Homo sapiens: one gene and its partner. The protein of the gene in region 1 purifies or fractionates together with the protein of each later gene. This does not show direct contact. Each region holds a gene or a part of one and is shown in the gene's direction. Other genes may lie near its edges. The genes, in order: SLC12A8 and NGEF.

Region 1 (16,246 bases):
CTGGACAAAGACAGGCATCTGTGCTGCTGAGAGTCCCACTTACATGGGCTGATTTGGAAAAAAGATGTTCACAGATAAGATGTTTTCTAAGTGCTGGCAGCCACGGCCTGAGACGCCACTGCACCAGCATCCCAGCTATTTTCCTGCCTTTCCACTTGGGCCCTGGTCCCAAACATTAGAGTCCCCCTGGTCACTGTCTCTGGAGTGCCTGTGCTTTGTTTGTCGCTGGCGCGGGCCAGGAGTCCCTGATCAGGGTGTGGTTAGTGTGTAATCCTTTTTATAAATTGCTGAATTTGGTTTGTTAACATTTTGTGGAGGATTTTTGTGTATATATTCATGAGGGATATTGGTCTGTAGTTTCCTTGTGATTCTTTGTCTGGTTTTGGTGTCAGGCTAATTCTGGCCTCGTAGACTGAGTTGGAAGGTGTTCCCTCCTTCTCTATTTTTTGGAGGAGTTTGTGAAGGGTTGGTGTTAATTCTTTAAACATATGGTAGAATTTTGCCATGAAGCCATCTGGTCCTGGGTTTTTTTTGATAGAAAGTTTTTTGGTTACTAATGGAATCTCTTTACTTATATAGGCATATTCTGATTTTCTACTTCTTCTTGATTTAGTTTTGATAGTTTATATCTTCCTAGGAATTTGTCCATTTCTTTTTTTTTTTTTAATCTGGGAATTTTGTTTTGTTTTTTGTTTTTTGTTTTTGAGACGCCGTTTTGCTCTTGTTTCCCAGGCTGGTGTGCAATGGCGTGATCTCGGCTCACCACAATCTCCACCTCCTGGGTTCAAGCAATTCTCCTGCCTCAGCCTCCCGAGTAGCTGGGGTTACAGGCATGCGCCACCACACCCGGCTAACTTTGTATTTTTAGTAGAGATGGGGTTTCTCCATGTTGGTCAGGCTAGTTTTGAACTCCCGACCTGAGGTGATCCGCCCGCCTCGGCCTCCCAAAGTGCTGGGATTACAGGCGTAAGCCACTGTGCTCGGCCATGAATTTGTCCACTTCACGTAGGTTATCTAATGCATCGGCATATTAATTGTCTATAGATTTTCTTATAGTCCTTTTTATTTGTGTAAGTTTGGTGGTAATGTCTCCCCTTTCATTCCTAATTTAAATAATGTCTTCTCTTTCTTTTTTCTTGATCAGCTTAGATAAAGGTGTGTTTACAAAGAACTAATTATTGGTTTTGGTGATTTTCTCTATTGTTTTTCTGATCCCTAATTCATTTCTGCTCTGACCTTTATTGATTCCTTCTTCTGCTTGCTTGGGTTCACTTTGCTCATCTTTCCCTAGTTTCTTAAGGTGACAGGTTGGGTTATTGATTTGAGCTCCTCCTTCCTCTAGGGTGCGGTTGGGGTTTTGAGGCTCCCTATTCCTTGTTCTTATTAACTCCCTCAGCCCTCATTCCAGGGCATGTGTGCATTCATTTATTTCTAATGATTGTCAAAACAGATTCCCTGATTTTACCCCCAAGCAGGGGTCAGCAAACTTCTATAAAGGGCCAGATCATAAATATTTTGGGTTTTGAGGGTCATATGGCTCTGTCACAACTACTCAACCCTGCCACTGTAGTGTGAATGCAGCCACAGATAAATGGCTTACAAAAAACGGGTATAGTTGTGTCCCAATAAAACTTTATTTACCAAAATAATCAGCAAAAAGGATTTGGCCAGTGAGCCAGTTTGTCAATCCCTTCCCTAGAGCATCAAAACTGAGGAGATATTAACACTTAAAGTAATGATTTTAAAAGCTTGCAGGTCGGGCGTGGTTGCTCACGCCTGTAATCCCAGCACTTTGGGAGGTCAAGGCAGGTGGATCACCTGAGGTCAGGAGTTCGAGACCAGCTTGACCAACATAGTGAAACCCTGTCTCTACTAAATACAAAAATTAGCCAGGCGTGGTGGCGCACGTCTGTAATCCCAGCTGCTTGGGAGGCTGAGGCAGGAGAATTGCTTGAACCTGGGAGGCAGAGGTTGCAGTTAGCTGAGAATGCGCCACTGCACTCCAGCCTGGGTGACAGAGCGATACTCCATTTCAAAATAATAATAATAATAATAATAAAAAGTAAAACAAAAGCTTGCAAAGGCTCGTCATTGCCCTGCATCCTACAAAACCCTTCCCCCTTCATCCCTCTCAGGCCTTGGTGGCAGGGCCTGCTCTGTGGGACCAAACTCTTTGTCAGGGGAGGAGACGATGGACTACAGACTCCCCTCACTCCCTGCTCCACTTACCTGTGTGGGCCTGAGGGTTCTTGGTGACTGTTTACCCTGAACACCAAAATGTCTAGCTTCAGCCTGTGCTGACACGTGGAAGAACGTTCATTAGTGGCTCACATGCTTTGTGCTGGACTCTGTATAAAAACAATGAATGACTGGAAAGTTTTTATGGACCTGATATAGGCCTGGAGTTTTTGTTATGGGTGTTAACGCATATTCAGGACATATGTGTTAATCCACCAACTCTTTAACCTTAAACCTGGAAGTTTGTGTCAGAAGGGGAGGGGTGTTGAGGGGCAGCGCTGGTCCTCCAGGTAAGGTGGAAGGAAAATGCCTGTGATTGTCAAGGTGCAATTTTGCTAAAAGAATTACCTTGGAATGGAAGCATTACACCCTGAAAATAGGCCACCTTCTCTCTTTAAAATGGTGAGCAACACCCACTGTGTCTTGTGAGAAGGAATTAGGCTTTTCTCTGTGGAGAATGAAAAAGAAAAGGAATGCCTGGTCTAAGATTTAGGAGGAAATAGAATACGTTTAACGTATAACAAACCCTTAAGACATTTACACATTAAACAAACCACCAGGAATGTTTTCCAAGGAAAAGCAGCATTCAGGTTGGAAGGGGTACCGCCTCTGGGGTGGCTGGATTGCTCTAGGGAAGGCTGGGCAGTTGCTGAGTGTGTGGACGAAGGCCTTGAGTCCTGGGCTGCTTCCCTAAACCTGGGCAGACAGGGTGATGATATACCCTGATTTAGTTTTTGCGTAAACATAAGGGTACTTTTAATATGTTTGCTTGTATTTTTTAATAAAATTCTTTGACAGTTACATAATGATATTCATTGTAGTCAGTTAACACATTGGAGACAATGAAAATAAAGAGCTTTCCCCCACACCCTTGAGGTGATCCCAGTGTTCTCTTTTGGAACATTTCCCTCGGCTTATACACATGTATTTATGGATTTTTGAAGTGCTTGCTTGTTTTTACAAAAATGGGGACAAGGCCAAGGCCAGGCGCGGTGGCTCACGCCTGTAATCCCAGAACTTTGGGAGGCCAAGGCGGGTGGATCATGAGGTCAGGAGTTCGAGACCAGCCTGACCGATATGGTGAAACCCTGTCCCTACTAAAAATACAAAAAATTAACCAGGCGTGGTGATGCACACCTGTAGTCCCGGCTACTCGGGAGTCTGAGGCAGGAGAATCACTTGAACCCAGGAGGCAGAGGTTGCAGTGAACTGAGATCACGCCGCTGCACTATAGCCTAGGCGACAGAGCAAGACTCTGTCTCAAAAAAAAAAAAAAAATGGGGACAAATTTCATACATTATTCCATGGCTTGTAGTTCTCACTTTAAGTAATAGATATATCTCTTGGTCAATGTTTTAAACCAATGCTTTTTAAATGGTTACTTAATATCGTATAGTATAAATATACCATAATTTATGGCTCATTTCTATTCTCCATTCATTCTTTTTTTAATTTTTTTTGAGACAGGGTCTCAGTCTGTTGCCTAGGGTGGAGTGCAGTGACGCCATCACAGCTCACTGCAGCCTGGCACTCCTGGGCTCCAGTGATCCTCCCACCTCAGCCTCCCAAGTAGGTGAGACTACAGGCGTGCACCACTATGCTCAGCTAATTTTTAAATTATTTTTGTAGAGACAAAGTTTTGACATGTTACCCAGGCTGGTCTTGAACTTCTGGGCTTAAGCAATCCTCCCACTTTGGTGTCCCAAAGTGCTGGGATTATAGGCGTAAACCACTGCACCCGGCACCCAGCCTTGTATTTTTTTGTAGAGACAAGGTTTTGCCATGTTGCCCAGGCTGGTCTTGAACTCCTGGACTCAAGTGATCCTCTCACCTTGGTCTCCCAAAGTGCAGAGATTACAGGCATGAGCCACTGGGCCTGGCCCTCTATTCATTCTTTACTCTCCTCTGTATATGTAGTTTTTTTCCTAATAGTCTATATTTTTGCATTTTCTCTTTTCTTTGTAATCAGGCTACCAGAGGCTTATCTATTTAATTTTTTTTTAAAAGATCAGCTTTTGTTTCTTGTATTTTTCTTTTGTTATTTTTTCTTCTATTTCATTAATTTCATATTTCTTTATATAAAATACTTCTCTCTATTATCTTTTTATTTATGTTGATATTTTTGTGACTGAAGTTAATTCTTCGTTCCTTTATTTTTCTTTTTTTTTTTTTTTTTTTTGAGACGGAGTCTCGCTCTGTCGCCCAGGCCGGACTGCGGACTGCAGTGGCGCAATCTCGGCTCACTGCAAGCTCCGCTTCCCGGGTTCACGCCATTCTCCTGCCTCAGCCTCCCGAGTAGCTGGGACTACAGGCGCCCGCCACCGCGCCCGGCTAATTTTTTGTATTTTTAGTAGAGACGGGGTTTCACCTTGTTAGCCAGGATGGTCTCGATCTCCTGACCTCATGATCCACCCGCCTCGGCCTCCCAAAGTGCTGGGATTACAGGCGTGAGCCACCGCGCCTGGCCTATTTTTCTTTTTAACTAATAAAATCATTTAAGACTATACATTTTTCTCTTCTGAACCCAAGTTTAGTTATGCCTCTTGAGTTTTTGAATAAAACATTCTCGTTTTCATTACTTTGTAAAAAATATAAAATTTTATTTTTCATTTCTTTTGACTTTGGCAACATGTGTCAGTTATTTTTCTATTGCATTTTGGTTGATTTGGAAGTTCTACTATGCTTTTAGTTCTTCTAGTAGTGACAGTCTACCCTCAGAAGTCATAATTAAACTTATCCTTTTCTATCATAATTTTCTACACTTCTCAACCAAGACACATTATTTACTAGCTCCTCTACCAACAAAATATTAAACTTCTATGATACATTTACTTTCCTACTCTCCATAAACACCCCCACTTCTACCCCCAGACTCATTGTGAGAAGACGGTTTAATTTTGGACTGTTAATTGCTTTCCTTAAAGTAAGTCTCTTTGGTTTCAAGCATCCTTATTTACAACTTATATTGCAAATTTCCAGTGATGGTACCATCATCTATTTAGCATCAACAAAGTATCTTATGATATTCATAGCTAGCTACTGTTTCCTCTTCTTCAGCAGCGAATAATAACAAAGTCATAATAATGACGGTAGCTATTATTATTATTATTATTTTCTGCCCAGGCTGGAGTGCGGTGGCGTGATCTCAGCTCACTGCAACCTCTGTCTCCCGGGTTCAAGGGATTTTCCTGCCTCAGCCTCTCAAGCAGCTGGGACTACAGGTGCACACCACCGTGCCTGGCTTATTTTTATTTTTAGTAGAGATGGAGTTTCACCATGTTGCCCAGGCTAGTCTCAGACTTCTGGCCTTAAGTGATCTGCTCTCCTTGGCCTCCCAAAGTGCTGGGATTACAGGTGGTAGCTATTGTTTCTACAACTCTATGAGCCAGATATTGTTCTAGGTCTTTACATAAATCATCTCATTTAGTTCTCACAGTAACCTTTTGAAGGTTACTATCATTATCTGTATTTCACGGAGGGGTTAAAACACTTTCCCAAGTCAGCCAGGATTTGGCCTTAGATATTTTGGCTTCGCAATTCATGCTCCTAACCACCATGCCCTTACAAGCCTCCTGAGGAGCTTCCCCCACCCCCTACCCTGCCCCATCCCCTGTTGCTGGCATCTTTGGGCTAAAAAGCAATTTTAGATACAAACCAGAAGGATGAGATCCACTGGAGTTACTGGGAACAAAAGGCAGCATTTACAGCTTGGCTCACATTGCGTGAGCAAATTGTTCTACTGCTAGGAAAAAAAAAACAGTTTGGAAGCTTTGGATGCAGATGGTCCCATGGCATCATCCTCTGCATGTCAGAGACATCAGGTACCTGGGAAAGTGGTGCCCATATAAATGGTATCCATTGCTACATTTTTGTCATTTATTTTATTTACTTTTATTTTGCTCAGATAATTTTGACCATGAAGAGTCCTGTTGACCTGGCCAAATACTGATGAAATAACGTCACTATCACACATCACACTCTTGGTGTTTAGTAAAGAGGAAGTTTGAGTTCTGAGATGAATGCAGGAAAACATTAGTCTCTCTGTCTTTCTCTTTCTCTCTCTCTCTCTCTCTCTCTCTCTCAGAAATGATTGTATTTCCCTCACATTTCTTGGGCTTTCCACCTCATCCTAATATGGACAGAAATGTTTACCACTATGGGATGCTGGAATAACTGTTAAGCTAAGTGTAAATTTGGGGGATGCTGACAAACATGATATGTGCCTAGTTGCAAAGTGAGCTGATCTCATTGAAGAATGGGGCCTTGTTCACAAGCTCCTTTCAAATCCAGAAGTTGTATTACCCTTTTGCCTTTACACAAAATGGCTGGAACTCATGGAGCCTGCTTCCCAGAGCACCTTTTATATGATCAGCATATCACAAAGTATTTATTGAATGCTTGCAACATACTTAGCAAATGCAAGTATTTGAAGAGGTACAATCAGCATAAACAATTTTTTAAGATATTTGCATTCTTGGTGGTGGGGTGGGGAGACAAACTTACGTTCATGACATGATAATAGAATATGGAACCAGATAATTAATTGTATGGCCTTAGCAGTTAGCTTACTATTTATTCAGAAAAAGAGGTTGAGGAGAGGCCTCATGGAAAAGGAGGGACTTGAACGAATGAGGCCCTAATAGAATTTGTTCCCAGAGAATGGCAAGGGCAGGGCTACAGTGATTAGAGTGACCAGCTGGCCCTGGGGGCAGTGAAGGACAAACCTGAGGAGAGAAGAAGGCTGAGGCTGAGGAATTAGGAAAAGTGAGACTGATGTTATTTTCAACAATTTAATTTGAAATGATCTTTCAAATATTTCCCAAAAGATAAAATCATGATTCTCAGGCAAATATAAGAAAAACATGTGCCAAGGATTTCATTTCATTTTTTTAAAAAAAGATTATATAACAAATACTCATAGGAAGCCTAACCTGGAGCAGGGATTTTATTTAATTTATGAATTAATGGAGGAGCCAGTAAGATGTTAAAGAGCATCTGCAAAGGATGCTGGGTGGACAGAGGTCAGATTAGTAAATTCATAACTAGGCAGTTGAATAAATAAATGTTAGGATAAGATTGCTGGGTTAGATAGAAAATCAGTTAATGTCTTACAGGACAACAAATCCTAATCTTTTGGGTTATATGTTCCACTGGACAGAAGTTATTTGCATCTGTACTGGAAAAAAATCCATAAGGTAACATGTAACTTTATTAAATCTGGGGCATATAATGCATTTAATCAACAGCAAATAGTGAGTAAAATGAAGTACATTCACCTAGATAGTCCTTGGGTAGCCTTTGCCACATATGACGTTGAAAAAGACGTGCCACTCACTTTTTTTTTTGCTAAGTTTTAGATAATTTTAAAAATAATACTGACCTATAGAGAAATGAAGAAAAATCTGGTTTACTGCAGTGTCCTTTTAAGGCTCTGTAGATGGGACCCCCTGTGTGTTCTTGTTCTATATTTAGTTCTTGAATAACTCGGACTGAGAAATCCGGAGGCCTCTTTAGCCCAGTGTCCCATCTTCTTCCTCCCATAGTCTTTTCATCTTTGTTATCACTGACAGCCAGCTCTCAGCTTGGGTTCCTCCTTCATTCTTTAGTTGAGATGTAGACAAGTAGAAATGGGGCCTGAGGCAGGTTCACGGGTGGGAAGGGCTGGTTTAACCCTGCACTGGTCCCAGGCACTGTGCCTTGGTGCCAGTGAGTGTGTCCGATGGGGGTGCAGGGTTCTCAGCGCTGGGCGGTTCTGCCCATGGGCCCATGGCTTTCTGTCCTGCTGACTCTTCTACCTGGAATCGCATGTCAGTGTGTTGCAGGTGCCATGTATATCACCGGCTTTGCTGAATCCATCTCGGATTTGCTGGGCCTCGGGAATATCTGGGCTGTGCGAGGAATTTCAGTTGCGGTGCTTCTGGCCTTGCTGGGCATTAACCTCGCAGGTGTCAAATGGATAATCCGCCTCCAGCTGCTGTTGCTGTTCCTGCTGGCCGTGTCCACACTGGACTTTGTGGTGGGTTCTTTCACCCACCTGGACCCAGGTAAGCCTTTCAGAGTCCAGTATGTGGCCTTATGGATCTTCACTGCTTTAGAGATGTTTGTAGGTGTGAGTTTGCCCACCCCATCTCCCCCTAACCCCCATAGGCTTTACCTACAATTGGTGTGAGCTGTTCCTGGATCAGGTGAGCAGGTGTGTCTTGGAGCAGCTTCATGAGGCTAGAAGCTCCTCTTCACACAGACATCGCCTAGCACATTTTCTATGTGTCCTTTTATTTTCTTTTTTTAATGTATATTTATTTATTTATTATTATTATACTTTAAGTTTTAGGATAACATGTGCACAACATGCAGGTTTGTTACATATGTGTACATGTGCCATGTTGGTGTGCTGCTCCCATTAACTCGTCATTTACATTAGGTATATCTCCTAATGCAATCCTCCCCCCTCCCCCCACCCCACAACAGTCCCTGGTGTGTGATGTTCCCCTTCCTGTGTCCATTTGTTCTCATTGTTCAATTCCCACCTATGAGTGAGAACATGCGGTGTTTGGTTTTTTGTCCTTGCGATAGTTTGCTGAGAATGATGGTTTCCAGCTTCATCCATGTCCCTACAAAGGACATGAACTCATCCTTTTTTATGGCTGCATAGTATTTCATGGTGTATATGTGCCACATTTTCTTAATCCAGTCTATCATTGTTGGACATTTGGGTTGGTTCCAAGTCTTTGCTATTGTGAACAGTGCCGCAATAAACATACGTGTGCATGTGTCTTTATAGCAGCATGATTTATAATCCTTTGGGTATATACCCAGTAATGGGATGGCTGGGTCAAATGGTATTTCTAGTTCTAGATCCGTGAGGAATCGCCACACCGACTTCCACAATGGTTGAACTAGTTTACAGTCCCACCAACAGTGTAAAAGTGTTCCTATTTCTGCACATCCTCTCTAGCACCTGTTGTTTCCTGACTTTTTAATGATTGCCATTCTAACTGGTGTGAGATGGTATCTCATTGTGGTTTTGATTTGCATTTCTCTGATGGCCAGTGATGATGAGCATTTTTTCATGTGTCTTTTGGCTGCATAAATGTCTTCTTTTGAGAAGTGTCTGTTCATATCCTTTGCCCCCTTTTTGATAGGGTTGTTTGTTTTTTTCTTGTACATTTGTTTGAGTTCATTGTAGATTCTGGATATTAGCCCTTTGTCAGATGAGTAGGTTGCAAAAATTTTCTCCCATTGTGTAGGTTGCCTGTTCACTCTGATGGTGGTTTCTTTTGCTGTGCAGAAGCCTTTAGTTTAATTGTATCCCATTTGTCAATTTTGGCTTTTGTTGCCATTGCTTTTGGTGTTTTAGACATGAAGTCCTTGCCCATGCCTATGTGTCCTTTTATTTTCTTGCTATTAAAAAAACCAGGCCAGGCACAGTGGCTCATGCCTGTATTCCCAGCCCTTTGGGAGGCCGAGACAGGTGGATCACCTGAAGTCAGGAGTTTGAGACCAGCCTGACCAACATGGTGAAACCCTGTCTCTACTAAATACAAAAAAAATTATTTAGCGAGATCTGTTTGATGCTAAAGCTGTTGCCTGAGGTGAGAAGTGGGGCCTGTTTTTGCACGATGATATGCTGTCTTTTTGTGACAGCAACTCTGCTTTTCCCCTTGGAGGCCAGCCCGGATGTGCACCTACACAGTCCTGCCTTTTAGAAAAATGTTGGTTGTGGGAAGGTCAGCATTCGGTTGGCATCCACTGATCTGGCCTTACTACTTCTGAGCATGTTAAAATCTTCTGTTGGAAAACTGTCACTCCCCTGAACTCCCTGAGTATCCCCTACCCTCTGGCATCCTAGTCCCTCTCCAGGAACCTTCAGATGCCCCAACGATCCGGCACCTAAAGGGTTAACCCCAGGGCCCACTCTAATGCTCAGGGCCAATGTGATGTCCATACTGATCACCTGGAGCCCAGGCTTTGCAGCTTGCTAAATATTTGACGCATCTCCAGGAAGGAAACAGTGATTTTTTTTTTTTTTTCCTGGCCATGTACCACCCTGCAGAGATGGCCCGCATATGGAGGGAGACTTGCTGGCCTTTGGCTCATCAAACTGTCAGTGAAGGAAAGACAGAGTCCACTCAGGTCCCTGATTCCTTGTACTTCCCCCTCCAGTGACACGGTTGCTGGAAGAGCTCAATTAGTGAAATTGCAAGGCCGTGCTACTGGCTTCTTTGAAACCTCACACTAGCCTGATGTATTTTCCTTCTTCTTGATTAGAAGTTCTTGGCTGCTCTTCTAAGTTACTCCAAATATTTTTCCTTCCTTCTGGTCAATACATTAGTAGAGTGTAGTGTGAGATGAAATTTATTTTCAATCATTCCCATAGCAACTGGCTCCTCAAGAATCTGTTTTTGGTATCACTGATGTTTCATATGGGATATTTTCTTTGTGGTTAAAAATCCAAACTGAAACCAAACTATAAACCTTCAAAATGAATTTAACAGAGTGATTTCAACTCTTAAAAAATGAGGACATATACATAGACATTTGAAAAAAAGACTGGAAGGAACTATGCATAATAGCAACTATCTTTCTGTTGAGATTATATGTGGCTAAATTATCTTATTTCTACTTTTCCTTCAAATGACCAGTGTTACTTTTTTAAAAAAAATTAATTCACTTTTAGAGCAGTTTTAGGTTTATGGAAAATTAAGCAGATAGTACAAAAGTTCCCACATACCCCTTTTCTCTCTCCCCCACCACAGTTTCCCCTATTATTAATATCCTGTGTTAATGTGGTACATTTACTGGAAGTGATGAACCAATATTGATATGTTATTGCTAATAGTTTAGGGTTCACTCAGTATTATACATTCTATGGATTTTGACAATGTACAATGTTACGTATGCAGCATTACAGCATCATACAGATGAGTTTCACTGCCCTAAAAATTCCCTGTGCTTTGCCTTTTAATGCTCCCCAACTCCTGGCAACCACTGATCTTTTTACTGTTTCCATAGTTTTGCCTTTTCCAGAATGCTGTATAGTTGGAACCATACAGTATGTAGCATTTTCAGCTTGGCTTCTTTCACTAGTAATATGCACTTAAGATTCCTCCATGTCTTTTTCTGGCTTGATAACTCATTTCTTTTTATCACTGAATAAAAAGAAACTGGATGTAGCACTGTTTGTCCATTCACCTACTGAAGGACATCTTGGTTGCCTCCAGTTTTTGGCAATTATTAATAAAACTGATATAAACATCCATGTTCAGGTTTTTGTGAGGATACATTTTTCATTCATTTGGATAAATACCTAGATGCATCATTGTTGGAGCATGTGGTAAGACTATGTTTGTAAGAAACTGCCAAACTGTCTTCTAAAGTGGCTGTACCATTTTGCATTCCCACCAACAATGAATGAGAGTTCCTGTTGCTCCACATCCTCATCAGCATTTGGTATTGTCAGTTTTTTTGTTTTTGTTTTTTAGTAATTCTAGTAGATGCATAGTAATATCTCATCATTGTTTTAATTTGCGATTCTCTAATGACGTATGATATTGAACGTGTTTTTGTATGCTTATTTGCCATCTGTATATCACCTTTGGTGAAGTGTTTGTCAAGATCTTTTGCCCTTTTAAAAAACTTGTGTTTTTTTGTTTGTTTGTTTGTTTTCCTATCATTGAGTTGTTTTGTTCTGTTTTGAGACAGGGTCTTGTTCTGTCACCCAGGCTGGAGTGCAGTGGCACGATCTTGGCTCACTGCAACCTCTGCCTCCCGGGTTTAAGCAATTCTTATGCCTCAGCCTCCCAAGTTGCTGGGATTACAGGCATGCACCACCACGCCCGACTAATTTTTTGTATTTTTATCAGAGATGGGGTTTCACCATGTTGGCCAGGCTGTTCTTGAACTCCTGGCCTCAAGAGATCCACCCGCCTCAGCCTCCCAAAGTGCTGGGATTATAGGCGTGAGCCACTGCGCCCGGCCACTGTTGAGTTTTAAGAGTGCTTTGTATATTTTGGATTCAAACCCTTTATCAGATGTGTGTTTTGCAAATTTTTTCTCCCCAGTCTGTGGTTGGTTCTTTCATTCTTTTAACAGTGTCTTTTGCAGAGCAGAAGTTTTAAACTGTAATGGAGTCTATCTTATCAGTGTTTTTCCGTGGATCATGCCTTGGGTCCTTGGGTGCTGTACCTAAAATCTCTTTGCCAAACTCCTAGATTTTCTCATTCTAGAAGTTTTGTTTGACATTTAGGTCTATGATCCAGATTGAGTTAATATTTTGTGAAGGGTGTAAGATGAGTGTCCAGGTTATTTTGGTTTTTTTTTTTTTTTTTTTTTTTGGCTCATGAATATCAAGTTGTTCCAGCACCAGTTGTTGAAAAGACTCTCCTGTCTCCATTGAGTTGCTTTTGTGCCTTTGTCAAATATCAGTTGACTGTATTTGTGTGTTTCTGGGTTCTCTTTTCTGTTCCATTGCTCTGTTTGTCTATTCTGTCTCCAATACCATACCGTCTTGATTACTACAGCTTTATAGTAAGTCTTAAAGTTGGTTAGCATCTATCCTCCAACTTTGTCCCTTTTCACCAGTGGTTTCTTTGTTTGTTTGTTTTTTTGAGATGGAGTTTCACCCTTGTTGCCCAGGCTGGAGTACAGTGGTGCAATCTTGGCTCACTACAACCTCCATCTCTTGGGTTCAAGCAATTCTCCTGCCTCAGCCTCCCGAGTAGCTGGGATTACAGGCATGCACCACCACACCTGGCTAATTTTTGTATTTTTGGTAGAGACAGTGTTTCACTATGTTGGCAAGGCTGGTCTCGAACTCCTGACTTCAGGTGATCCATCTGCCTTGGCCTCCCAAAGTGCTGTGATTACAGGTGTGAGCCACTGCGCCTGACCAGTGTTACTCTTAAAATCAGAAAAAAAGTTTTTTTAAAGTACACTTAAGCCTAACTTTATTTCTTCCCATTTCTTTAAATATAAACAACGAAACAATTCCAAACAATCCTGAAATGTATAATGTAAAAATGTAAAAAGTAAAGTAAAGAATGAAAGTCTCCTCCTTCACTCAGTTTCTCCACTTCTTTCCAGAGGGAGATTGGTCCACGTATTAGTTATCTATTATTGTCAAACAAATTACCCCAACATTTAGTGGCATAAGATAACAATAAACATTTGTTATCTCTGGCCTTTTCTGTAAGCCAGTAATTTGGGTGTGACTTGGCTGGCGGCCCTGGATCAGAGTCTCTGGTGAGGTTCAGTCAGATGTCCTCAGGGTCTGTGGTCATCTGAAGGCTTAATTGGGGCTGGAGGATCTCACTGGCAAGTTGGTATTTCTTCTTGTTAGGAGGCCTCAGTGGTCCATGTGGTTCTTTCCTGAGAGCTGTTTTAGTATCCTTAAGACAAGGGGTAACTGACTTCTCCCAGAGCAAACAATCAGAGAGAGACAGACAGGGAGAGAGAGAGAAAGAGGGAGAGGGAGAGAGAGAGAGAACAGAGAAGATGAATTTTTTTTTTTTTTAAGAAGGAGTTTTGTGCTTGTCACCCAGGCCGGAGTGCAGTGGCGGGATCTCAGCTCACTGCAACTGCCACCTCCCGGGTTCAAGTGATTCTCCTGCCTCAGCCTCCTGAGTAGCTGAGATTACAGGCACTTGCCATCATGTCTGGCTAATTTTTATATTTTTAGTAGAGACAGGGTATCACCATGTTGGCCAGGCTGGACTTGAACTCCTGAACTCAGGTGATCCGCCTGCCTCTGTCTCCCAAAGTGCTGGGATTACAGGCTTGAGCCACCATGCCCGGCCTAATTTTCACCTTTTCTTTTCTTTTTTTTTTTTTTTTTACTTTTTAATTTTCTTTTTTTTTTTTTAATTTTTTTTTTTTTATTATACTCTAAGTTTTAGGGTACATGTGCACATTGTGCAGGTTAGTTACATATGTATACATGTGCCATGTTGGTGCGCTGCACCCACTAACGTGTCATCTAGCATTAGGTATATCTCCCAATGCTATCCCTCCCCCCTCCCCCGACCCCACCACAGTCCCCAGAGTGTGATATTCCCCTTCCTGTGTCCATGTGATCTCATTGTTCAATTCCCACCTATGAGTGAGAATATGCGGTGTTTGGTTTTTTGTTCTTGCGATAGTTTACTGAGAATGATGGTTTCCAATTTCATCCATGTCCCTACAAAGGACATGAACTCATCATTTTTTATGGCTGCATAGTATTCCATGGCGTATATGTGCCACATTTTCTTAATCCAGTCTATCATTGTTGGACATTTGGGTTGGTTCCAAGTCTTTGCTATTGTGAATAGTGCCGCAATAAACATATGTGTGCATGTGTCTTTATAGCAGCATGATTTATAGTCCTTTGGGTATATACCCAGTAATGGGATGGCTGGGTCAAATGGTATTTCTAGTTCTAGATCCCTGAGGAATCGCCACACTGACTTCCACAATGGTTGAACTAGTTTACAGTCCCACCAACAGTGTAAAAGTGTTCCTATTTCTCCACATCCTCTCCAGCACCTGTTGTTGCCTGACTTTTTAATGATTGCCATTCTAACTGGTGTGAGATGATATCTTTCAATGGAGAAGTGTCAAAGAATTTGAAGTCACATTTAAAAACCACAATAGTTAATTTTAAAATCAGAAAACAGTTATAAATACACTTAAGTCAAACTATATTTTTCTCTTTATTTTTATTTTAAAGACAAAATCAATGTCTTTGTTTCATAAAAATATAAAATATCCTGAAATTTATCAAGTGACAAGTGAAAGTTTCTTCCCTTCACTCCATTTTCCCACTCCTACTCCCCAGAGGGAGATCGGCACATAGCTTCTCAGTCTATTTTCTTTCTTTCTTTCTTTTTTTGTTTGAGACGGAGTCTCGCTCTGTCACCCAGGCTGGAGTGCAGTGGCGTGATCTCGGCTCACTGCAAGCTCTGCCTCCCAGGTTCACGCCATTCTCCTGCCTCAGCCTCCTGAGTAGCTGGGACTACAGGCGCCCGCCACCATGCTCGGCTAATTTTTTTGTATTTTTAGTAGAGACGGGATTTCACCGTGTTAGCCAGGATGGTCTCCATCTCCTGACCTCGTGATCTGCCCGCCTCAGCCTCCCAAAGTGCTGGGATTACAGGCGTGAGCCACCACGCCCGGCCCCCAGTCTATTTTGTATACATGCACAAGCTCACATGCACATGTGCATGTACATAAACACACACAGCACAGCTCTTTGTAAAAGTGTAATTAAATTCCACATTGTTTTGCTACTCCCCACTCTTTAACATATCATGGATATCCTTCAATGTCAGTACATTTAGGATGTCCTCATTCTTTTAAAACACCCACATAGCATTCCATATTAGAGATTTAAAATACTTTATATTTAAAGATTAGCTTACTGATGAGTATTTAGATTTTTCCAGTTTGTTGCTATCATAAATATTGCTGATGTGTACATCCTGCACAAAAGTTTGAGCTAATTTCTGCAGGATCATTGCTTATAAATAGAATTCACAGGACAAAGGTCAAACACTTTAAAAATTTTGTTAGGTTCTACCAGATTGCCTTCCAATAAAGTTGTTGCATTCTGAACGATCACTAACAGTAGCTAAGAGTTACTGATTCCCCATACCTTGGAAAATATTGAAGAGGCTCAATTTTTCAAGTTTCTGTCATGTGATGGGCAAAAAAATGTAATCTTTTTCTTTTAATTTGCTTTTCTTGAATCATTAATGAGGATTTTTTTTTGTATTTTATTCCCACTTGTATTTTTTTCTTTGAATTGTCTATAATCTTTCCCTGTTTTTGCTTTCTATTTTCCCTATTTTCTTTTCCAGATTTCTTTTTCTACAATCTTGTTCTGCTCTCCCTGTCAGATGCTGCCAGCTTTCTCCAAATGTCTGGTAGTCGCTGTCCATCCATTGTTGGTAATGAGGCACCACAGAGCTGATCGGGAGTTCCATCCACAACCCAAGTGGGTGGCAGTTGTGACAGGTGGGCATCACAGTAG
Region 2 (16,246 bases), on another chromosome or scaffold:
AGCGGGCTGGGCTCGGGCTCTGGCTCTGGAGTCCGACTTCATCATCATTGTCTGCAGAAGGAGGATAGCCTTTGAGGGGTTTCTTCTTAACTGGAAGCCTTTTAAAGTCACTTCCGTGCATCCTGATGCCTGCAGTGTAAATGACTGCACCAGCAGCAGGCACCGAGGCAACTTTGTGACCTTGCTGTTGAGTCATCCTGGGGAACAGAGGATGTGAATCACCCCAGGGCGGCTGCAGCAAGAGGACTCTGTGGGGCAGGAGCAGAGAGTGGAGAGCTTGGGAGCGCCCTGCGCCCCTGGCTCTGGCTCTGGCCCCAGCTGCTAGAGGAGAGAGAGGAGTGGGCCATGGTGATCCCCGTACCACACACACCCCAGCCACTGCCCTGCCGAGGACAGACTGAGGCCGGGTCTTCAGCGGCCCAGGTGGCCCTGATAGCTCCCAGCAGCATACTGGAGACACGGAGCCTGGATGGTAGGGCCTGTGCTGAGGTGTCACGGCGACGTCCCCACAGCCTCTAAGGGAGTCCCGGAAGGACGCCTTAGACCCTTGGCATTCTGCCTGGCCTTCTCTTCATCCCCTCCCTCCCTCCAGGCAAAAGCCAGTGAACTAAGTTGGGCTCCAGGCCAGTGCCCTGATGCCCAGGACTGGGGGTGACCTGTGTGGGGAGGGCCTGGCACACGGGTGGATGGGAAGGGACCTCGCAGAACCCTTGTGGGGAAGGGGCTACGTTTTGTTTCCTGGCCGTGAGGAAGGTGGAGGGCAGCCAGTGAGCCCGCCCTTCAGTCCACGGTCTGCTGGCCTTTGGCTCCGACCCCCGCAGATGTCACCCTGGTGACGCAGCTGCAACAACGCATCGAAGGTCACAGCATCAGAGACAGCAGTGATTTGTTAACACAGGGGTCGGGAGAAGCCAAAAAAACAACCCAAATCAGGCTGGAATGCACGGCCCAGAGGTCCACGGCGAACCCTGGATCATAAGGAGACCGTGTAGGTAAAGAGCGGGGAGGAGAAATCGCGCAGCCTCGAGCTTTGCTGAGGGTGGGGAACGCAGGGTTGATCCGAGTGCGGAGGCAGGAGTGGGACTCCGAGGACAGACACTGTAGTCCCGGCCGGCCAGGCAGCATGGCCCATGTTTGACCGTGAACTGCAGGACAAGCTGAACTGCCTTAAGTAACAGGGAATTGGGGCCCGCGGGCTGCGTAAAAGCCCGTCGCTCTTTGGGTGTTAGAGCTGGTAAAGCTTCCGCCTTTCTCCATCAGGAGCAGGTTGGCTTCCTGCAGACTTTTCTTGGTGTCCTGGTTCCTCTTTTGTGACCTCTTGCTGATGGGTCTCTTTTGTTTTTCAAATGTGTGACTTGAACAGGGTGGTGTAGGCGGCCCTAACTCCGGGACCTGGCTGATCTGAGGCCGCCGGACGTCACCACCCCAGAGCAGCCCCGTGGCCCGCGCTGCCTGAGAGGGGGCCTGCTCACCTGGCTTCAGGTCCTGGTCCTGGCCCCACGGGCAGCGTGGCTCCCAGTGCCTCTGTGGGTGATTGTGTGAGAGCATGTGTGTGTGTGAGTGAATGTGTGCATGAGTGTGAGAGCGTGTGTGTGTGAGTGAATGTGAGTGAACGTGTATATGAGTGACTGAGAGCGTGTGTGTGAATGTGAGTGAACGTGTATATGAGTGACTGAGAGCGTGTGTGTGTGAGTGAATGTGAGTGAACGTGTATATGAGTGACTGTGAGAGCGTGTGTGTATGTGAGTGAACGTGTATATGAGTGACTGTGAGAGCGTGTGTGTGAGTGAATGTGAGTGAACGTGTATATGAGTGACTGTGAGAGCATGTGTCTAAGTGAATGTGAGTGAACGTGTATATGAGTGACTGTGAGAGCGTGTGTGTGAGTGAATGTGAGTGAACGTGTATATGAGTGACTGTGAGAGCATGTAAGTGAATGTGAGTGAACGTGTATATGAGTGACTGTGAGAGCGTGTGTGTGTAAGTGAATGTGAGTGAACGTGTATGAGTGACTGTGAGAGCGTGTGTGAGTGAATGTGAGTGAACGTGTATATGAGTGACTGAGAGCGTGTGTGTGTGAATGTGAGTGAACGTGTATATGAGTGACTGAGAGCGTGTGTGTGTGAATGTGAGTGAACGTGTATATGAGTGACTGTGAGAGCGTGTGTGTGAATGTGAGTGAACGTGTATATGAGTGACTGTGAGCGTGTGTGTGTGAGAATGTGAGTGAACGTGTATATGAGTGACTGAGAGCATGTGTCTAAGTGAATGTGAGTGAACGTGTATATGAGTGACTGTGAGAGCGTGTGTGTGTGAGTGAATGTGAGTGAACGTGTATATGAGTGACTGTGAGAGCGTGTGTGAGTGAATGAGTGAATGTGTATATGAGTGACTGTGAGAGCATGTGTGTAAGTGAATGTGAGTGAACGTGTATATGAGTGACTGTGAGAGCATGTGTGTGAATGTGAGTGAACGTGTATATGAGTGACTGTGAGAGCGTGTGTGTGTGAGTGAATGTGAGTGAACGTGTATATGAGTGACTGAGAGCGTGTGTGTGAGTGAATGTGAGTGAACGTGTATATGAGTGACTGTGAGAGCACGTGTGTAAGTGAATGTGAGTGAACGTGTATATGAGTGACTGAGAGCGTGTGTGAGTGAATGTGTGTATGAGTGACTGTGAGAGCATGTGTGAGTGAATGTGAGTGAACGTGTATATGAGTGACTGTGAGAGCATGTGTGTGTGAGTGAATGTGAGTGAACGTGTATATGAGTGACTGTGAGAGCATGTGTGTAAGTGAATGTGAGTGAACATGTATATGAGTGACTGTGAGAGCATGTGTGTGAAAACCAAAGGAGACCCCTGACCCATCAGCAAGAGATCACAAAAGAGGAGCCTGAAGAAAGCCCAGGCTGGACCGGAGTTGAATCTTCACAAGGAATCCAGGCCAGGAATGGGCTTAGGAAAGCCAGGAAGTGTGACGTGAATACTGGCAGATAGCAACAGAGCTGAGAGCGCCATTCCCAGACCAAGCAGAGATTCAGACAGCCGGGTCCAGGCTACATGCGCATTCCCTGAGGAGGAGCTTCTGTAGTGACACGTACGTTCACACGCCCCCCTCATATGCACACATTCACACACACAGTCACATACTCTCATTCACACACATTCACACTCACCTTCATACACATTCACCCACTGTCACACACTCTCATACTCTTTCACACACATGCACACATTCACACCCACCTTCATACATACTCATTTACACATTCACACACAATGCATTTACACACACATCCACACATCCACACCCACCCTCATATTCACTCACACATGTTAACACACATACACCCATTCACACTCACATTCACACACACACATGCATTCACACACACATTCACTTACATGCTCTCACAGCCACACCCATATACACATTCACCCACAATTTCCCACACATGCACTCTCATTCCTTAATGCTCACACCCTGACTCGCGTATGTCTATGCACACATACACTCATTCCCACTCGCCCTCACAGGCTCACACTTCCTTCCACTACCCTGGGACGAAAGTGCCATGGGAAGCCAGTCTTGCTGTGTTCACAGCCGAGTGCCCAGTGCCTAGACCAGTGCCTGGTGCTCAGCAGATGCTCAGTGAGCATTTGTGGAACGAAGGAACGAACGAGTGAATGAATGAAGAGCGAGCAGAGCCTGGATCCCTCGTCAGCTCTATGCTGCCATGTAGAGGCTTAAATGAGAGCAAAAGTAATATCGATAAGGAAAAGATAGCCATATCGACATGACAAACAATTTGACATACAAAATGAAGACAAACATCCTGGAAGCTAAAATTCACAGGTGACGTTGCCTGTAAATGGATGAGGAGGGGTGAGAGTTCTGGGGAATGAGCCTCAGCCATACCGATTAGCAGGGATTCAGGCCAAGGCCCACAGCTGAAAGGCCCTACCTGCCATTTCCCCTGGCCCTGAAGATCAGGACAGAGATGCTGTCGGCCAGAAGATCCGGGTGATCCAGAGCCAGGGTGTCATCCCAGGTGTCTCTAGCAGGCATCCTTCAGGGCCATGTGGTTTAATGGCATGCTTTTCTGTGATGTGGCGCTGTGGGCATGGGGGTTTTCCCCTTGGTATCATTCGTATCAGTTTTGTGAGTTATGTTTGCTTGGAACTTGTGAGCTGTAACTGCTTCACATTTTCTTAGGAAACTTAAATTTAGCAGCAGGAAAATGAATTCATAACAGCATCTGTAGCTGAGAAGCTTCTGGGAAACTGGCTGCCCGTCATAGCCTCACTTTTGTGTCGGTGGACACTGGCCGACTCGGGGTCTGCTGCCAGTCAGCGCTGGGCTGCAGGTCTGCTGCTGTGAGGCCCGCTGCTGTGTGCTTGCTGTGGCTGCTTTTTAGGTAGATGAGGCAGATGCGACGTGGGGATGGCCACGGAGAGGCCACAGGCTCATTTCAGCGTCTCGTCTCTGACCGTCGCTGTCTCAAGTGAGGTGCTGCTGTGTGCTTGCTGTGGCTGCTTTTTAGGTAGATGAGGCAGATGCGACGTGGGGATGGCCACGGAGAGGCCACAGGCTCATTTCAGCGTCTCATCTCTGACTGTCACTGTCTCAAGTGAGGTGCAGACACTGGGGGCCGGGTGGGCCCTGGCTACTGATGGTGGTTCGGGGTCTGCAGTTGGCCGCTGGCCCTGGAGTGACATCAATGTGAACTCTCTGTGGGGTGTTCCCAGCTTCCAGATTCGTCCCTTATTTTAGAGTGCTCTGCCAGGTGGGTGGGTGGGCAGAGCTTTGCAGGGAAGCAGCAGTGAGAGCTCCTGCAGGCGGGCATCAAATGCCCAGCAAACCCCTGCGCTACCTGGGAGGTGGCAGCATCTCCACTCCTCCAGCATCCAGCCATGTGACTTTCTGGATGCAACTTCACTTCTCTGTGTCTGTTTCCTTTTGGTAAAATGGGAGCTTCTGTCTGTCCTTTCTGGGGGACCTGGGAGGATTAAGTGAAACAGCCTGCAAAACCCCACCACTCCAGGGCCCACTGTGTTCTGGGAACAAATGCCTCTAACCCTGGAGCTCCTGCTTTCATGCCAAAGCCCTGGGCCCTGGGTCAGGGCTCTGATGAGTGGAGAAACCGGAGGGCGGCCCTAAAAGGAGTGAGGCAGGGGATGGGCAGGACCCTGGGGAAGGGGCCAGACCCCCACCTCCACCCCCTACCCCATCCCTACCCTCACCCCTTCCCCCACCCCATCCCAACCCTCACCCCTCACCCCACCCCTACTCCCACCCTTACCCCTAACCTCACCCCCACTCCTACCCCCACACTCGCCCCTACCCTCACCCGCACCCCTACCTCACCCTTAACCCCACCACTACCCCCATCCTCACCTGTACCCTCACCCTCACCCCTACCCTCACCTCATCCCTACCTTTACCCTTACCCCCACCCTCACACCTACCCACACCCTCACCCCTATACCCACCGTCACCCTCACCCCCACCCTCAACCCTACCCTCACCCTTACCCCTACCCTCACCCCTACCTTCACCCTCACCCCTACCTTCACCCACGCCCCTAACCTCACCCTCACCCCTACCTTCACCCTCACCCCTACTTTTGCACTCACCCCTACCCCCACCCCTACCCCCACCCCCATCCCTACCCCCACCCCCACCCCTACCCCCACCCCAACCCCTACCCTCACCCCCACTCCTACCCTCAACCCCAACCTTACCCTCACACCCCTACCCTCACCCTCACCCCTACCTTCACCCTCACCCCTACCCCACCCTCACCCCTACCCTCACCCCCACCCTCACCCTTACCCCAGGCTCCTCACTGCTCTGTTTCCACCCCTCCTCTGTGGCCATAACAAATTACCAGAAACTGGGTGGCAGAGGATCACAGGATTGATTCTCCCACAGCCTGGGCAGGCTGTGCTCCCTCTGACAGCTCTGCAGAGGATCCTTCTGGCCAACTCCAACTGCTGGTGGCTGTATCAGTCCCATCTCTGTCTGTGCCTTCTCTGTGTGTCTGTGTCACATTATTAAATCTCCCTTGGCCTCTTTTATAAAGACACCCATTATTGGTTTGGGGCCAACCTTAACCCAGGATGATCTCATCTTGAGCTCCTTGACTCAATTATGTCTGCACAGACCCTTTTCCCAAATAAGGTCCCATTCACAGGTGCTGGGGTTAGGACATGGATGTAGCTTCTGTGGGGGCCACAGTTCAACCCACTCTGCTGTCCCTCCTGGGAAGCGACTGTGGGACCTGAACCCGCCCTAAGTATCAGAGGGTGACGGGGAAGAGGAAGGTGGGTCATTGGGTTGATTTGTAAACAAGGGAGGAAGGTGAGCCGGGATCTGCCACCTGCCCTTACAGAATGACCCATGAGATGCAGAACTGCTGTTAGATCCTAGTCAGCTATTCAGAGGCTCAGCAATCAGGTGATAATCATGACATCGAATAAAGGCACCTCCAGAAAATTGATCAGGTTATGGATTTCTTTCTCTCTTCCAAAATGAAAATCACCTTATTGGTTCCATTATAAAATCAGACCATGATATATGTTCATTGTTAAATTATCAGGCGATTCAAAAGGTAAAAAGGTAAACATCCCCCCAGATTCCACCCGTGACACTCGTGCTTGACACTGGCCGGTTTCCCCTGACGCTTTTCTGCTGGGCGTGGAGGAACAGGATTCCTCCCACCTGCTGACTTTCGCACCCACTAGCACACCCAGAGCATGGGCCAAGCCACCCTTGGCAGCTGTGCGGGCTCAGGTGTGTGGCTGACCTTTTTTTTTTTTTTTTAAGACAGAGTCTCACTCTGTCACCCAGGCTGGAGTGCAGTGGCGTGATCTGGGCTCACTGCAACCTCTGCCTCCCAGGTTCAAGTGATTCTCATGCCTCAGCCTCCCAAGCAGCTAGGATTACAGGCATGTGCTACCACACCCAGCTAAGTTTTGTATTTTTAGTAGAGACAGGGTTTTACCATGTTGGCCAGGGTGGTCTTGAACTCCTGACCTCAAGTGATCTGCCCGCCTCGGCCTCCTAAAGTGCTGGGATTACAAGAGTGAGTCACCACGCCCAGCCTGACCTCTCTCGTTTTTGTCTTGTTTCATATTTTGGATCTTAGGCTATCTCCAGTTGTCAGTATGGTAAGTGTTCTCTCACAGGGAGTAGCCTCCGTGCCCTGTCACCTTAGGGGTAGTGTGCTCCCTAGGAAGAGTGGCCTCACTACCATTCCCGGCCGCAGGTGTTACCAGCTGCCCCTGCAGCAGCCATCCCAGGCCCCAGGAGCAGGCGATTTTTCCCTTTCAACTCCCTGCTGAGCCTCCCTCTGCTCCTCTGTCTCAGCCAAGGCTAGCGCCTTCGTGGAAGGCCAACTTCAGGCGGTAACCATGGGGTCTCCCTGCTACAGGCCATGTTCGAGCTGGTCACTTCCGAGGCGTCCTACTACAAGAGTCTGAACCTGCTCGTGTCCCACTTCATGGAGAACGAGCGGATAAGGAAGATCCTGCACCCGTCCGAGGCGCACATCCTCTTCTCCAACGTCCTGGACGTGCTGGCTGTCAGTGAGCGGTGAGGACGGGGGGGACAGCCACCTCCCTCAGGGCCCTTCTTCATCCCCAGGGCACATGCTTGAGACACTGATGACAAGTGCTCGATACTGGCTTCTCTACTTCCAGATGTTTGGAATGTTCCATAATAAAATATAAATAAATGAAGAACTAAATCCAAACCTCACCACCCCTTCTGGCAGGGTGGCCAGTCACGTCCCCCGGCGTCCCTTCCCATGAGCACCTGTGCCCCACACAAAGCTCTGCGCTGAGCATCCTGCTGGCCCCAGGTTGGAGTGACGCTGAGTCCAGCTCTCTCATGCATCAAACCGGTGGTTGGACAGGTTTAAACCAGGCAGGTCCACGGGAGTCTTGTGACAGGGACAGAAGGTGTCCATGTAAGCTGCTCCTTACCCTAGCAGAAAGCCCCAGTGGCGCATGCAGGGCCTCAGGCCCTGTGCAGGGTGCAGCCCTGGATTCCCACATCCTCACCTCCTGAGTGCGTTTTCCACAGCTCTGGGAGCTGTGCTTCCAGCAGGGACTGTGTGAAGCCTGGGCCGAGCTGCAGCGGAGGAAGAGTAGACAGACATCTGCCCATTGAATCCTTTGAAAAGGAAAGGAACCAAATCATGTGGCCAGGATGAAAGAGCACTTACCATCCCCAGGGCAGGCCATGGAGTTTTGCAGCCAGAAGCCACATGGGGCTCAGCTGGGACAGTGCCTGGTGATCAGATGGGAAACCAAGGTGGGGCCCGGCGCAGCCCCGCTCTGAGCAGTGGGGATCCGCTCAGCATCACATGTGGCACCCTGGGAGCTGCTCACTCTCTGTGGGCCTCCAAGTGGGTCTCTCCTCCACACTGACACTCTCACTTCTGTTTGCAGCCCCCTCACCCCTTCGTGGCAGCGCCTTCTGGTGGGTTTGGGAGGTGATGGCTGACTGGGGCCAGAGTGGCCTGTGAGACCCCTGGGCTTCTGCTGCGGCACTTCTTTTTTATTTTTTTTGAGACAGAGTTTCACTCTTTTTGCCCAGGCTGTAGTGCAATGGTGCGATCTCAACTCATGGCAACCTCCGCCTCCTGGGTTCGAGCGATTCTCCTGCCTCAACCTCCCGAGTAGCTGGGATTACAGGCGTCCACCACCACACTCGGCTAATTTTTTGTATTTTTAGTAGAGACAGGGTTTCACCATGTTGGCCAGGCTGGTCTCGAACTCCTGACCTCAGGTGATCCGCCCGCCTCGGCCTCCCAAAGTGCTGGGATTACAGGCGTGAGCCACTGCGCCTGGCCCTGCCACGGCACTTCTGTCTTATGTATTTGTATTTTACTGTGGAAAATTCCAAACATGCAGAGGTAGATGTCCATGTGCGCTGCTCACCAGCGTCAGCAGTGGTCAGCCCAGGGGCCAGTCCCTACCCCCCAGGGGACCCTTCTGAAGCAGATCCCCATGGTCATCTATTTTATCCTCAAACACATCAGCACATACCTGAAAGATAAGGTCTCTTGGTGCTCCCAGCACCATCAGCCCCGTGAAAACACAGTCATTCTTCAAGATGACCAAATACACCACCAGTGCTCGGTGCCCCTGCCGATGGATCTTGTCGGCCTGTACGCTCACCGTGCACACTGCTATGTCCAATGTCCAAGTCAGGCTCGCATGCTGCCCTTGGTGAGACAATTCCCCACCCTACCCCCCGGGCACCCTCCGCCTCAAGCCGCTGCCTCTCGTAGGTTCCTCCTGGAGCTGGAGCACCGGATGGAGGAGAACATCGTCATCTCTGACGTGTGTGACATTGTGTACCGTTATGCGGCCGACCACTTCTCTGTCTACATCACCTACGTCAGCAATCAGACCTACCAGGAGCGGACCTATAAGCAGCTGCTGTGAGTGTATCCGGCAAGGGGCTCAGGGGCAGGGGGAGGTGCCCGGGGCAGCCATACCAGTGCTGGCCCAGGCTCCTTACACGGTGACACTTCATGGTCCTTTACCTCTGCGTTCCCAAGGTCCACATGAGCCACCGGAGTTGGCCAGGGATACTGGTGACAGTGTCCCAACCCAGCACGTTCTAGGGTGTATTGGTGTCACTAGAGAAACATTAGCCCAGCCAGACCCCAAGAGAATCAGCGTAGCATCCACTGGACCTGGATCCAATGGCTGAGCAGAGCACTGTGCAGTTAGAAAAGAGAGCTTGAGGTCAAGTGAGGTCATGTGGACAATTCAAAGCCCAGGACATCAGAGACGGGGCTTGAACTAGCGACAAGGGCAGGGACAGGATGGGAAGGAGCCTCGGTGGGGCTCCTCCAGCAGCGCCGGGGCATTGATTGCTAATCTGCCCATTTTGTAAACTTTCTCTGAGGTTTAGTTGACAAGGTAATTTTCCAGCCAGCGTGCCTCTTCTGAATTCTGCGCACTGAGGTTCGCACTTCAGTGCCTGGGGTTAGCCAGGGAGGCCGTCTTGGCTCCGCACAGAAGCACCCAGGGAGTTTTCCAGTTGTGGCGTCTGCACATTGCGCCTCACTGGCTTTTCCACCAAGACATGGAGTTCATGGTGCACGTTTCAAGCCTGAGTCTTTGGGCATTTGGATGTTTTAACAGTTGGTGAAGGAAAATTGGAATTGGAGGGAATGAGGATGCAATTTTTGAGGATAAACATTGAGAAGGCAAGCATGTGGCAGATTAGGAATCATTCACAGCACCCAAGAGCCTGCCGCTGTGGCCCCCGCCAGGCCGTGTGAGCACAGAGGCTGAGTGACAGGCTGAGCACCTGTCCCTGCCGTCCCTGCTGTCCCTGCTGTCCCTGCCGTCCCTGCCATCCCTGCTGACATGCATGGGGCCGAGCTCACCTCCAGCTCTCCCAGCCCTCATCAGCGCTGTGGCCCAGCCCACCGCTGAGCCCACCTGTCAGAAATAGTGCAGGCTGTCCTGGTGGTGTCTCTAGCCTGCTGCCCGTTCCTGTCACTACGTGGGTTTACCTTGCCACAGTTTCCCGCTGGGTGAAATCATCTAATTGTGCATCTGATTCACAGACTTGGCCACACAAGGAATCCTTATCCTCCCACACACAGCAGCATATTGTGCCAAGTCTTCAAGGCCAGGCATGTGAAGCCACTATTGTTATTTGACTTTTACGTGAACAGTCTATTTTCCTTTTGAAAAAAAACAAAGAAAGAAATCAACATGTTTTCTGAGCCCGTGGGTCGTCTGGATCCTGGGAGGCTGTGGATGGGGAGGAGGAGTCTCCAGTTCATGCCTCCTGCAGCTCAGAGACCTACTCCACCTGTCTGTGTCCCCAGCCAGGAGAAGGCAGCTTTCCGGGAGCTGATCGCGCAGCTAGAGCTCGACCCCAAGTGCAGGGGGCTGCCCTTCTCCTCCTTCCTCATCCTGCCTTTCCAGAGGATCACACGCCTCAAGCTGTTGGTCCAGGTACAGCCTCCTCCACCTGACCCACAGACGGGGCTTCCCAGGCTTTGCTGTGGTCATTCCCGGGCCCTGTCAGCTTTCTAGGAGGTCTACTGGTTCAACAGATACTAAGCTCCTCCCATGTGTGCCAAGCACGTTCCTGGGCAGTGAGGATGCAGCGCCTGCTCCCAGGGAGCCCATCGCAGAGGGGAGAGACCGAACCATGCACAGCCAGGAAGTGGGCATGGCCCTGGGGACAGCCAAATGGGCCGACACGACAGGGGTGGCTGGCTGGCCACTGCCAGTTGCAGCGATGGGGGCGGGTCAGGAAAGACACGTGACGTGTAAGCTGAGACCTGGCTGACAGGGAGGAGCTGGTGGGGGCAGGTAGAGGAAAGAACATTCCACGCAGAGGGAACCGCTTGTGCAAAGGCCCCAAGACTGCAAGGTTCATGGACAGAAAGGCCAGCAGCGATCTCGGGAACATGACGGGGACGGGAGTGGGTGTGGAGATGGGGACAGAGGCAGTTCCAGGGAAGACATTGGGTCCTGTCCTCAGTGTGATGGGAGTCACCTGATCGGACCCACTTTTAGGAGCTGGCCCTGGCTGCTCCAGAGGGTGACGGAAACGGGGAAGGGGTTACACTGGCCTGTGGGGCTGGGTCGGGGAGTGGGGGCCCGGCAGGGATGTCAGGGAATTGAAATCAGTGACTTGCTGAGAGAAGGACTGAGAGTGATTCCTCGGCTTTTACCTTGAGCAGTTTGGGGGTGTGCAGCCGTTGCTGAGATGGGGACGTCTTGGGGCGGGGAGGGCTCAGGATTCAGGGCAGGATGAACTGAGTTTGAGATGACTTTGGACAGTTCAGTGTCAGAGGTCAGAGTTAAAGGGAGAAGTTGGGCAGGACTCGCTGGCATCAAGGTGGTAATTAACCGAAGAGGCCGCCAAGGAAGGAGAGAAAGGTGCCTGAGACCAAACTCAGGGACGCAGCCAGGCCTGGGAAGGAGCAGCGGTGAGGGAGGTGGAAACCCACAGAGCTGGAGGCATGGGAGACTCAGGGGGATGGGGCTTCCAGAAAAGGGAGGCTCCAGCCAGGCCCAGAGGCAGGCCCAAGACCCCCTCCACCTGACAGGCCCAGTGAGGCAGGACAGAGACCCCCTCCACCTGACAGGCCCAGTGAGGCAGGACAGAGACCCCCTCCACCTGACAGACCCAGAATCAGGACTGAGACTCCCTCCGCCTGACAACCCCAGTGAGACAGGACAGAGACCCCCTTTGCCTGACAACCCAGTGAGGCAGGACCGAGACCCCCTCCACCTGACAGGCCCAGTGAGGCAGGACAGAGACCCCCTCTGCCTGACAGATGCTGGGGCCCTGTCTACTGATGCCCTGGGCAGAGGGAGCCATTGGCAGCTGGGCTGGTGAAGTGGACGGTATAGAGTGCAGCTGTGGCCCTGAGGAGCATGAGCTGAGGGGGACCTGGGAGCCACAGGTAGCAGAGGTCAGAGGTCAGACAGGTGAGAGGCCAAAGACCTAGGGGCAGCTACTCCAGAAAGAGCAGAATTACAGAGAGGAGGCCTGACCCAGGAGGAAAGGGTTTGGGAGCATGAGGCCAAGGAAGCAGTTGTCAGGAGAAGCCCCTGGCCCAGGGCTAATGGAGATACGAACGTGAGGGCAAAGCCGGGATGGCGACCCCAAACCGGAAGACACCTGTGATGAACGCAGTTCCGTGGGAAATATTTTTTTAACTTGGAAAAAGTGAAACAGAAGACAGTAACATTTCCTAATTATGCAGTGAAAAATATTTTAGGACATTTTATAGGGAAAGTGCATATATGAATATATTAAAACCTTAGCTTCTATAAGATGAAAACCAACAGTAAGATTAAAAGCAATGGAAATGCAGTGATTAGGAAATGGTGGAATGGGGACAGCTGGGGTGGGCACTCAGGGAAGGGCTCAGAGAAAGGGGTGGCGGGTCAGGGACCATTCCAGAGAGAACGGCAAGTCTCCACATCAGGCAGCATGCTGGGGACACACCGAGTGGAGGCTGGCGTGGGAGAGCACGTGCCAGGCTAAGGAACCCATACTGCCCTCCATCTGAGGCCACCAATGCCACCTGGTCAGATGCAGCTTTTATGCCTGTGAGAAAAGATGGCGTCTAAACCGTGCTGTTCAGCAGGGATTTGGAAGTAGGGGGACAGTTAATGACAGGCATGGTGGCCACATACAGGATGGAAAAAGCAGGAAGGTGGCTGTGGGTCTCGAAGGTCTCTGGCTTGGCTGCCAGGCAGAGGCGGGCAGGTGACCACAGGAGAGGCCTGGGCTGCTGTCAGGGGAGACATCTGTGCTGCCGTGGCACCCAGCAGCCGGGAGGACAGGTGGTTGGTGCCCAGATGCACCCAGCCTACTTACAGGACAAAAGCCAGTCAGAAAACGTGGGCATGGTGGGGACCGCTAAGAGGAAACCATGTGGAGTTTATAGAGCAATGTCAAAATCGTAATTTACAGGTGAAAGCAGTATGGGCATAATTTTTTGTTAACTGAAGAAAATTGAACAGTTGGAGAAGAGACTCTTTCTTACACTTTCATGGAGAAGACCAAAGTTAACAAAGTTTCGGGGCCAAATGACAGTCCCAGGGAGGAGAGGGAAGCCCTTGGTCCCCCTACCCCTGTCCCGTAAGCATTTAGCTCCCCTTGGGGACAGAGCTGACCCTAAGCGTGACAGTCCTCACTGCTGGGTGCCACACCTGCGGGCTCTCTTGCTCTCCATTTGTCAGATGGAGGCTGTGTGTATGTGTGTGCGTGCATGCGTGTGTGTGTGCAGGTATGCATGTATGTGCATGCATGTATGTGTGCGCACACATGCTTGTATGCATGTTTGTACACGTGTGTACATGTGTGTGCACTGTGCTTGCAAGTGTGCATGCATCGTGTTGTGCATGTGTGAGCATGTATGCACGTGTGTGCATGCATGTGTGCACGTGTGCTTGTATGCATGTTTCTACACGGTGTGCATGTGTGCACACTGCTTGCAGGTGTGCATCATGTGCATGGTGTGCATGTGTGTGCGAGCATGTATGCACGTGTGTGCACACGCAGGTCTGTATGCATGTGTGCATGCATGTATGCGTGTGCGTGCGTGCGTGTGTGTGTGTGTGCATGCTGCAGCATGGGGCTGGACTGGTGCAGTAGGGAGGTAGTCACGGTCAAGGTGGGAAATGGGAGGAAAGACCAGAAAAGATTAAAGTTAACGCAGCCTTTCTCTGTGCATAGAACATCCTGAAGAGGGTAGAAGAGAGGTCTGAGCGGGAGTGCACTGCTTTGGATGCTCACAAGGAGCTGGAAATGGTGAGTCTCACCTCCTCTTGTGCTGTATCCCAATGCACTGTTTTCCTCATCCAGGCACACCTTTCCGGCCCTGCTCCCCACATGTCCGTGTGTCTTTTTAGAATATGCAAATTTATTTTAAAATTCACTTTTGCAATCAAAAGAGTCACTGGGGCTTAAAAAAATACACCAGGCATGGCTTGGGTAGAGAGCCTTCTTTACCCTGCTTCCTGGCTCCAGCCTTACGTACTCACCGCCTGTCTTGTTACTGTGCCTGGCATGGATGTGGGGACAGCAGCGTGGCTCTCAGGACATTCTTCACCAGTGTGGAGCTCTGCGATCATGCACAGGCCCTGATTCCTCTCATCAGCTCCCTGGGATTGTTCTTTGCAGGCATCTGGGGCCCACACAGACCCCAGGCTTGTCTTTGCCTGTTTTTCCATGTCAGAAACAGTCTCTCCTCCCTCCTGTGAGGCTCACCGAGGCTGGTTCCCACTTTCCCTGTGCCCTGATGAAGCCCTTTGCTCCGAACCCAGCCCTCCACGCCACTCTCCCAGTCCCCGGAGCTCAGTCACCCCTGTGCATCTCTGTGAGGGGATTCACTGGCCCTGCCCAAGAGCCCTGGGCCTTTGCTGCCCAAGAGTGCAAGGACCATCTCTCCAGACCATCTCCTGACCCTCAGAGAGAGACGGCTCCTCCTAGAGGTTTGCAGCAGAGCAGGGGTTTTGCGGGAAGGGCCAGCGAGTATGTTTCAGTCCTCAGGAGCTCTTACCATGCGCTCTGCCACGTTTGGCTCCTGGCATCAGCTGGAGCTGAGAGCCAGCTTTTGACAGCTGTGCTAGGGCACCTCCATTGAGCCAGTGACGCCGTCATGGTGGAGAGCAAGGCGGGGGATGTCCATATTCCACTTCTTTGTCACCCCATGGCAGAAGCTTAGTAAAAAGAATATCACTCTCAGTGGGCATCTGATGGTCATTCTCAGCCACATTGAGACATGAGGACTTCCTACCCTATTGCAGTCGGTTCCCACCTCGGGCCACTCCTCCTGTCCCTTTCCCAGACCAGTTGGCCACCAAAATTCCTCTGGCAGTTACACGCTGTGCCTAGTGAGGAAAGGCTGGAGCCTCAAGCAGGGTAGCCAGGGGGCATCCGCGACCTGTGAGCCAGGCAGCATCTCTAGGGGCCCATGCCCACCTCTGGAAGCAGAGCTTCCCTTTTACCTGATTGGATGTGAGTTCATTCCAGCCACCACCAGACAGCAGCCACACGGGGCCACCATGGCCCGTGAGGGGCCCACGTGCCCCAGAAGGCTCTCCCTGAGGTCAGCCCTGGGCCAGGGGTATGTTTTCTGTTTTTAAAGTTCTTTTCTGCTTTCATCTTCATTTTTCTTATAATGAAAGGTATTCTCTGTTTCTAATAGCTTTTTTTTTTAAAAATGAAGGTTTATTTTTTCTCTGATTTATGAAAGTAATTATACTCAATACCAGGAAACTCAGAAAATGCTTGTAAGTAAAAAGAAAATAAACTTCACTAGCCACCTCGCCCTCCCTGCCGACAGGCTGCAGCTCGCCCTAAACAGACGCCTGTGCACACACACCTGTGCACAGCACACTCGCAGGGCACACACTGCACACACGGCACACGCACAGCACATACACGCCCATACATATCACACACAATACACACCGCACACACATGGCCCCTCATCACACAGTACACACTGCACACACACACAGCACATACCACACACAGTACACACAGCACGCACACACACATACACGGCCCCTACATATCACACAATACACACTGCACACACACACAGCACATACTTATCACACACAGTATGCATAGCACACACAGCACACATGGCACATACATATCACACACAGTACACACCGCACATGCATACACAGCACACACTGCATATACACAGCACACACATGCAC

What was found.
Region 2: the proteins of SLC12A8 (region 1) and NGEF purify together in Homo sapiens (affinity purification with mass spectrometry; 2 studies listed by BioGRID and IntAct, with this or other methods). This does not show direct contact.

What each region holds. Positions count from the first base shown.
Region 1 is NC_000003.12:125,169,779-125,186,024, reverse strand, and holds part of SLC12A8 (solute carrier family 12 member 8), read left to right. Parts: intron 1-8,050; coding exon 8,051-8,282; intron 8,283-16,246. UniProt on the Homo sapiens protein: Cation/chloride cotransporter that may play a role in the control of keratinocyte proliferation.
Region 2 is NC_000002.12:232,886,108-232,902,353, reverse strand, and holds part of NGEF (ephexin-1), read left to right. Parts: intron 1-806; exon of another isoform or gene 807-992; intron 993-7,437; coding exon 7,438-7,598; intron 7,599-9,303; coding exon 9,304-9,456; intron 9,457-10,866; coding exon 10,867-10,996; intron 10,997-14,246; coding exon 14,247-14,321; intron 14,322-16,246. UniProt on the Homo sapiens protein: Acts as a guanine nucleotide exchange factor (GEF) which differentially activates the GTPases RHOA, RAC1 and CDC42. Plays a role in axon guidance regulating ephrin-induced growth cone collapse and dendritic spine morphogenesis.